2 separate regions of the Homo sapiens genome follow, and region 1 is linked to region 2. The links come from fine-mapping of genetic effects on gene expression. A gene starts in region 2. The other region holds a variant in brackets. All regions are shown on one strand. Distances are between the middles of the regions.

The links.
Region 1: its variant is fine-mapped to the expression of VMA22 in whole blood (TOPMed, PIP above 0.99).

What each region holds. Positions count from the first base shown.
Region 1 is chr2:130,361,815-130,366,210 of GRCh38, reverse strand. All of the region lies in intron 5 of PTPN18 (protein tyrosine phosphatase non-receptor type 18), which reads right to left. Among named protein-coding and RNA genes, the nearest start is that of PTPN18, 8.0 kb to the right of the region's middle. The variant C/G (reference allele first, on the strand shown) is at 2,360.
Region 2 is chr2:130,339,853-130,344,248 of GRCh38, reverse strand. It overlaps VMA22 (vacuolar ATPase assembly factor VMA22), which reads left to right and starts at 2,085. Exons shown (of 5, transcript NM_032357.4): 1 at 2,085-2,234; 2 at 2,305-2,408; 3 at 2,500-2,582; 4 at 3,210-3,341. The coding sequence starts at 2,124. It overlaps IMP4 (IMP U3 small nucleolar ribonucleoprotein 4), which reads right to left and starts at 1,352. Exons shown (of 9, transcript NM_033416.3): 1 at 1,314-1,352; 2 at 1,055-1,163. The coding sequence starts at 1,316. RefSeq lists enhancers at 1,320-1,489, 1,620-2,169.

The sequences.
Region 1 (4,396 bases), 22 kb before region 2:
AAGCATATTGTTTGTATTAACAGTTCAGGCATAGTGAGCCACTGTTATCAGAAACCTAGGTTTCTAGAGGCCACCCAAGAGTCAACCTTACAGGAAGGCCTTTCTAAGCATAAACATTTATGCTTGCCATGTTTAACTCTTCTGCACAGCAGGGGACCTACCCAAAATAGCCAAAACAATCTTGGAAAAAAGAACAAATTTGGAAGACTCATACTTCCTGATTTCAGAACTTCTACAAAGGTATAATAATCAAAACTATGTTACACTGGCACAAGGATAAACACATCAATCAGCTTAATAAAATTGAGAGTTCAGAAATAAACCCTTATATTTATGGCCAATTAATTTTCAACAAAGGGGCCAAGACGGTTCAATGGGCAAAGCATAGTCTTTTCAACAAATGGTGCTGGAACAACTGGATAGTCACATGCAAAAGAGTGAATGTGGACCCCTATCTCACATCACATACAAAAGTTCATTCAAAGTAAATCTGAGACCTAACTGTAAGCAAGAAAACTATAAAACACTTAGAAGGAAGAACAGGAGTAAGTCTTTATGACCTCTGATTAGACAATGACTTCTCAGATACACCAAAAGCACAGCAACACAATAGATTGGAATTAAAGTTTCACAAAATGTTTGTGCTTCAAAACACACCATCAAGAAAGTGGAATGACAACCCACAGAATGGGAAAGACATTTTAAATCATGTACTGATAAGGGACTTATATACAGAATAACGCTTACAACTCAATAATAAAAAGACAACCCCAAATAGCCCAATTTTAAAATGAATAAATGACATGAATAGACATTTGGCCAGAGAAGATATACAAATGGACGAATAAGCACATGAAAACCAAAACCACAATGAGGTACCACTTCCCACTCATTAGGATGGCATATATGTCATTGTCATATGCCACATAATGATGTTTTGGTTAACAACAGACCACATATACAATGGTGGTGCCATAGATTATAATGGAGCATATGTAGAAACCTGATACATGGCACTTGATATTGACACTGCATATTAAGTTGGGGAAATGATTGATACTCAGTAATGGTGCTGGGACATTTGGTTTTCCATATGAAAAATATATAAATAAAAAATGTATATACTATCTATGTTTGTGTAAGTATACTCTATGATGTTTACACAATGACAAGATAGTCTTAACAATGCAGACCATATCCCTGTCATTAAACTACACATGTCCCTCCCTCCCTCTCTCTCTCTCTGCTGATGGGAACGTAAAATGGTACAGCCACTGTGGAAAACAAAATGTTGAACATAGCGTTATCATATGATCCAGCAATTCCATGCTAGGTGTATACCCAGGGAACTGAAAACAGGGATTCAAACAGATACTAGTATACCAATTTTTTGTTGTTGTTGTTGTTGTTGTTTTGAGACGGAGTCTCGCTCTGTCGCCCAGGCTGGAGTGCGGTGGTGCGATCTCGGCTCACTGCAAGCTCCGCCTCATGGGTTCACACCATTCTCTTGCCTCAGCCTCCCGAGTAGCTGGGACTACAGGCGGCTGCCACCACGCCTGGCTAATTTTTTGTATTTTTAGTAGAGGTGGGATTTCATCGTGTTAGCCAGGCTGGTCTCGATCTCCTGACCTCGTGATCTGCCTGCTTCGGCCTCCCAAAGTGCTGGGATTACAGGCGTGAGCCACTGTGTCCAGCCTGTATACCAATGTTTGTAGCCGCCTTATTTACAATAGTCAAAAGGTACAAACAACCCAGATGTCCAACAGGCGAATGGATAAACAAAATGTGATATATACATACAATGAAATATTATTTGGCCTTGAAAACAGTGAAATTCTGATACACACTGCAACATGGATGAACCTTGAAAAAAGGACAAGTATTGTATATTAGTGTATTCCTGATTCCACTTGCATGAGGTACCTAGAATAGGCAAATTCATAGGGACAGAAAGGAGAATAGAGGTTACCTGGAAATGGGGGAATGGGGAGTTATTGTTTAATGAATACAGAATTTCTGTTTGGGATGATGAACATGTTCTGAAAATAGACAGTAGGAATGGTTAATCCATTGTGAATGTACTTAATTCAATTGAATTGTACACTTGAAATGGTTTAAATGGCAAAATTATTTTTAACATTCCTCACAGCACCTATAAACTGGCAAATTTTATGTTATGTATATTTTACCACATAATTTAAAGAAAGACACAATGGCATACCACTTCACAACCCCTAGGATGGCTATAATTAAAAAAAAAAAAAAGACAGTAACAAGCATCAGGGAGAAGAAATGGGGACCCTCAAACATTGCCGTGGAAATGTAAAATGATGCTGCCACTGTGGAAAACAGTTTGGCA[C/G]TTCCTCAAAATGTTAAAAATAGAGTTTCCATATAGCCCAGCAATTCCCAGCAATACCCAAGAGACATGAAAACCCACATCTACACAGAGACTTGTATATCAGTGTTGATAGCAGCACTGTTCATAATAGCCAAAAAGTAGAAAGAACCCAATTTCTGTCAACCAATAAGTAAAATGTGGTAGATCCATTCAATGGAATAGTATTCAGCAAACAAAACAAAACAAAACAAAAATGCTAAGCAAAAAAAGGCTACATATTATGTGATTCAATTATATGAAATGTCCAAAGTAAGCAAATGTATAAAGGCAAAAATAGATTAGGGATTGTCTGGGGCTGTAGAGGTTGCTGGGAAATGGGGAGTGACTGCTAATGGATATAGGATTTCTTTTCTTTTTCTTTTTTTTTGAGAGACAGTCTTGCTCTGTGGCCAGGCTGCAGTGTAGTGGCACAATCTCAGCTCACTGCAACCTCCAACTCCCTGGTTCAAGCTATTCTTCTGCCTCAGCCTCCCGAGTTGCTGGGATTACAGGCACATGCCACCATGCCCAGCTAATGTTTGTATTTTTAGTAGAGACGGGGTTTCACTATGTTGGCCAGGATGGTCTTGATCTCCTGACCTCGTGATCCACCAGTCTCAGCCTCCCAAAGTGCTGGGATTACAGGCATGAGCCACCATGTCTGGCCTGGATTTTTTTATGGAATGATGAAAATGTTCAAAAACTTATTGTGGTAGGCCGGGCACGGTGGCTCATGCCTGTAATCCCAGCACTTTGGGAGGCTGAGGTGGGCGGATCACGAGGTCAGGAGATTGAGACCATCCTGGCTAACACGGTGAAACCCCGTCTCTACTAAAAATACAAAAAATTAGCCGGGCGTGGTGGCAGGCGCCTGTAGTCCTAGCTACTCGGGAGGCTGAGGCAGGAGAATGGCGTGGACCCGGGAGGCGGAGGTTGCAGCGAGCTGAGATCGCGCCATTGCACTCCAGCCTGGAGGACAGAGCGAGGCTCCGTCTCAAAAACAAAAACAAAAACAAAAACAAAAATCTTACTGTGGTAATAGTTGCATAGCTCAGGAATATAGAAAAATGATGGAACTGTACACTTTAAATGACTGAATTGTATATCAATAAAGCTGTTTAAAAAGATATTCTAAAACAACTATAATAGCAGTGTACTGTGGAGTATATTTTATATATAGAACTATAATATATAGTAACAATAGCACAAAGCATGGAAAGGGGTAATCGAAATATACTACAGTAAAGTTCTGACATTTTACATGAAATGTAGAATATTATTTGACTATAGACTATAAGTTAAAGATATATATTGTAAACCCTAAAGCCACAACTAAATATTTAAAATAAAGATGTATAGCTAATAAGGGAATAATTACTATGCAATAGATTAATAAAAAATTCTCACTCTGAAAGAGAAAAAAAGAAGAAAAGAACAAACAGAGCAAATAGAAAACAAATAGCAAGATGGTAGGTTTAAACCCAACATTATTGATAATTACATTAAAGGCTGAATATTCCAATTAAAGGCAGAGACTGTCAGATTAGATTTAAAAGTAAGTCCTGGCTAGATGCAGTGGCTCATGCCTGTAATCTTAGCACTTTGGGAGGCCGAGGTGGAAGGACAGCTTGAGGCCAGGAGTTCGAGACCAGCCTGGATTATACGTGAGACTTAATCTCTACAAGAAATAAAAAACAATTAATCAGGCACGGTGGTGTATGCCTGTAGTCCCAACTCCTCAGGGAGGCTGCGCTAGCATGATCATTTGAGCCCAGGATTTTGAGGTTACAGTGAACTATGATTGCACCACTCCATTCCCCTCTGTCTTAAAAAAAAAAAGTCCCTACAATACACCACCTACAAGAAACACACTAAAAAATAAAGATGAACATAGATACAAAGTAAAAGAATGGGAAAAGACATATGCAAACTCTAAAGAAATTTAAGGCCGAGGGCGGTGGCTCATGCCTGTAATCTCAGGACTTTGGGAGGCTGAGGCGGGTGGATCACCTGAGGGCA
Region 2 (4,396 bases):
TCACGCCATTCTCCTGCCTCAGGCTGGCGAGTAGCTGGGACTACAGGAGCCCGCCACGGCGCCCGGCTAATTTTTTATATTTTTAGTAGAGACGGGGTTTCACCGTGTTAGCCAGGATGGTCTCGATCTCCTGACCTCGTGATCCACCCGCTTCGGCCTCCCAAAGTGCTGGGATTACAGGCGTGAGCCACAGCGCTCGGCCTTAAAAATTACTTTTGAAAAGAAATATAGACTGTTCTGTACGTATGATGGTGGACCAGAGACCTTTAAGCTCTCAGACAGCAAAACCGTTGGTCACGATGCCCACAGCGCTTCGAAGGCATGGCTTCAGCGGGCCCTGGACCACAGGCTGCCTACCGCAGAGCACAGCGCTCCAGGTGCGCACTCGGGGCCAGCACTGTTCCCCACGGAGCTCAGAGGAACTCCTGCAGGGAGGATGGGCAGCGCAGTCTGCAGCACCAGCGCTATCCAGATAGTCTTTAGAGAGAATTTCTTTTTTTTTTTTTTTTTGAGACGGAGTCTTGCTTTTTTGCCCAGGCTGGAGTGCAGTGGCAGGATCTCGGCTCACTGCAACCTCCGCCTCCCGGGTTCAAGCGATTCTCCTGCCTCAGCCTCCTGAGTAGCTGGGATTACAGGCGCGTGCCACCACGGCCGGCTAATTTTTGTATGTTTAGTAGAGACGAGATTTCACCATGTTGGTCAGGCTCGAACTCCTGACCTCATGATCCGCCCGCCTCGGCCTCCCAAAGTGCTGGGATTACAGCAGTGAGCCACCGCTCTAAAGAGAATTTCTACAGGACAAGATAAAGTCTTTAAAACTTGGGACGAACTTGACACACTGCACACAGCGGGCAAGCTGCAAAACCCGGGTACTGCAACGTCAGTGACAAGTAATTAATACCATCACACGGAAGAAACACTCTCAAAACCAACAGGAGAACCCAATGGGCAAGGAAAACGGCCGGCAAGCATTTGGAAAGACGCTCGGATATTCGAACACAAATGCGTGCCGGGGTGGTTTACCACGCAGACGCCCGCGGGGCCGATGCCTTACCTTCCAGCGCGCGCCGCAGCCGCTCCTTCCTCTCCTGGGCTGAGCGCTGCGCCTCCTCCCGGGCCTTGCGGTACAGGTACTCGCGGCGCAGGCGGGCCTCGCGGCGCAGCTGTGGGAACAGCAGGCCCAGTCACTCACTACTCGCTCCCGAGCCCCGGAACCCCGGAGCCCCGGAGCCGCTGAGCCTCCAAGTCCCCAGAGCCACATCCCCAGCACTTCACGCGCCCCGGACCTCCGAAACAGGAGCTCATTCTCCTACCATCTTGAGTGCCGCTTCCACGTGGGTCCGGGAGAATCTGTGGGCTCCTCCAGCGCGACACAGTCCTCACTTCCGCCCTCAACCAAGATGGTCCCTTAGACGCTTCACTGGTGCCTGCAGCTGTGGGGAATGCCCTATGTTAAGATGGCGAATAGGGCGGGGACATCTCAAGGCGATTGGCCATTCCGGCAGGGCGTTCTCCTTGGGATAACCGATAGACTGGATACAGAATGTCACACGTGACTTAGGACCGCAGCTAATAAATATGTCCGCCCAGGCTTCTCCATCCTCGTCCTCCCCCCACCACCGCCGTGCAGAATGCAGTTTTCAGATGACGAACCGCTAAAACAATCATAATTAGCGGCTGGAAACAGTTCAACTGTAAAAACCGCACACCGACTGAAGGTTGCTTGCCGGCTCCTTTCCAAATTAACTTTAAAACCACTCTTCCCTCAACCAAAATGGTTTCTGTAGAGCTTCGCCTTCTTCCATCGCCACAACAGTGGCGCGACTTCTAAGATTCGGCAGCTTCCGGAAGGACTCAGAACCACCTATAACCCTAGCCGACAGTTCAGCAGGCTGATCCACTTGGGGGCTAATTGGAGAAACCAGTTGATTGGTTGCTTCCGTGCTGCTTCTCTAAGGGCGCTTGCCCTTAAAGAAGCTGACCCAGAGGCCTTGGTGCTGCCGGCGTGGGGATCCCCAGATGGGAACGCCCCTTGATGGAGGATCTCGTGTGCCTATTGGCTGTCCTGCCAAACTGCGGAGGGTGACAAGGAAGAAGGTGGCTCCAGATCTGGAGGTGTGTCCATGGCGGCGCTTGACCTGCGAGCGGAGCTGGATTCGCTGGTCCTGCAGCTGCTTGGGGACCTGGAGGAGCTGGAGGGGAAACGAACGGTGTTGAACGCCCGGGTGGAGGAGGTAGGCGCCTGGGGCGGGCAGGAGGGTACACGGGCGTAAACTGAGTCTCACCGCTTTCCTCTCCCTGCAGGGCTGGCTCTCGCTCGCCAAGGCTCGCTACGCGATGGGCGCCAAGTCGGTAGGGCCCCTGCAGTATGCTTCCCACATGGAGCCCCAGGTCTGCCTCCACGCCAGGTGAGGAAGCTTCCATGCTGGGCTGGGTGGGCGGGCGGGCGCGTTCTAGGCCCGGGCTGCCAAAGCTCCATCCTCCCTTCTCGTCCTTCAGCGAGGCCCAGGAGGGACTCCAGAAGTTCAAGGTGGTGAGAGCTGGTGTCCACGCCCCAGAGGAGGTGGGGCCTCGCGAAGCAGGTGAGCCCCCTCTTCCTTCTGCAGAACCCCTTCCCAGTGTCAAAGACAAAATGCAAATTATGGAGATGATTTAAATTAGGTTTTTGCGATAAGAGAGAGCATCCCAGAGCAGAAGAACAGAATGTTTTTGTAGGGTGGTTTTGCCTTAGACTTTTATAGGAAGTAGAGAAATTGTTGGTGAGTTGCTTTACACTGGGAATAGATTTACAATCACATACATTTCAGTCAGCTGAACAGAAAATATTTATCTGTGTGTCTAGCTAGTTTCAGAGGGACAAACTTCTAATCCCAGTTAATCATCCTGAGACAAAGAATGGGGAGTTGGAACGTCTATGTCTGGTCTGTTGGCATGTTCAGGTACAATGGGTAAGATCAGTGTCACAGGCAAACAGGGTCATCAGTGGGTCTTACAGGAGTCACGGGAAAGAGTGGACAAACAGTCTCATCTGAATCACAAGGGGAAAGGCTGTGTTTTGTGGTAAGCTGTTTCCTGGAACCCCAAAGTTGGAATTTTCCAACCAACAGTGTTTTATAGAATCATGAGCTCAGATCAAGCTCAACATTGTCACCAAGATGATAAAGGTCAGGGAGTAAGATCCCAGCCTCCTCCAACCTTTCTTTCCTCAGGTCTGCGGAGGCGCAAGGGCCCCACTAAGACCCCAGAACCGGAGTCCTCTGAGGCCCCTCAGGACCCCCTGAACTGGTTTGGAATCCTAGTTCCTCACAGTCTACGTCAGGCTCAAGCAAGCTTCCGGGATGGTGAGTGGACCGTGTTGTTTGGCTCTGTGGCCCTCAGACCCTCTATCCACAGGGAACACTTGAGCACTGCTGCCATGGCTGGGGTTAGTCTGTGAAAGGCTTTGCAGGTTTTCCTCCATCCAAACTTCCGTTGTACACCCATTATTTTTTCCAAAAGCATTTACTGGTTGTTGGCAGCATTCGGGTTCATGCTAGCTGCTGGGGATACAGCAGGGAACAAAAGAGACAAACACTTTTCATGTAATGTTTAGAAGCAGACAAAGGCAACGTGCAAATAAGTAGGCCCTTAACATAAGTCAGGCTGTGAAAATTGTTATGAAAAACACATAATGGAGTGGGACAGGAGTGGGCCAGGGGAGGTCTCTCTGAGGAGGTGAAGGAAAAGCTTTGTGGGTGATTTTGGGGAACAGTGCTCTAGATGGAGGAACCAGCCAGGACAAAAGCCCTGAAGCCAGATATATCTGGTATGTGCCGAGGCCGGTGGCCTAGAGTGGAGTCAGGTGATGTAAGCCCTGATGAAGACTGTGGGACCCACAGAGAGGCTCTGAGCAGAGGATGGTGCAACTGGCTGTACAGGGTCACAGGAATGCTTGGGTGCTGGGCGGGGACACAGAGCAGAGGGAGGAAGTAGGTGTCAGGGAGCAGCCAGTGTGAGAAGCAGATAGCGTCACTGGAGGAGGAGGTAAGTGGTGGGAACCTGCACAGGTTTTAAGAATAGAAGCCCCAGAATTTGCTGACAGATAAGATATGGGAGTAAGGGAAGGAAAGGAGTCCAGGAGAGCCTGCGGTCTCCACCCAGAACCCCTGGGAGGATGGAGCGACCCTCACCTGCTGTGGGCAGCTGAGAGGATTCCAGAAGGCAGGAGTTGGTGTGGTCTGTGTGGTATCCACCGACGCCCTGCTGGAGAGTCTGAGTGGGCACTTGGGCACATGTATCTGGAGTTTGGGAGAGGCCTGGGCTGGAGAGAGATTTGGGAGTCCACTGCATAGCACTGGTGTTTAAATTCCAAAGTTTTTGACACAAACACTGGTTTAAAGCTGAGATAGGATGAGAT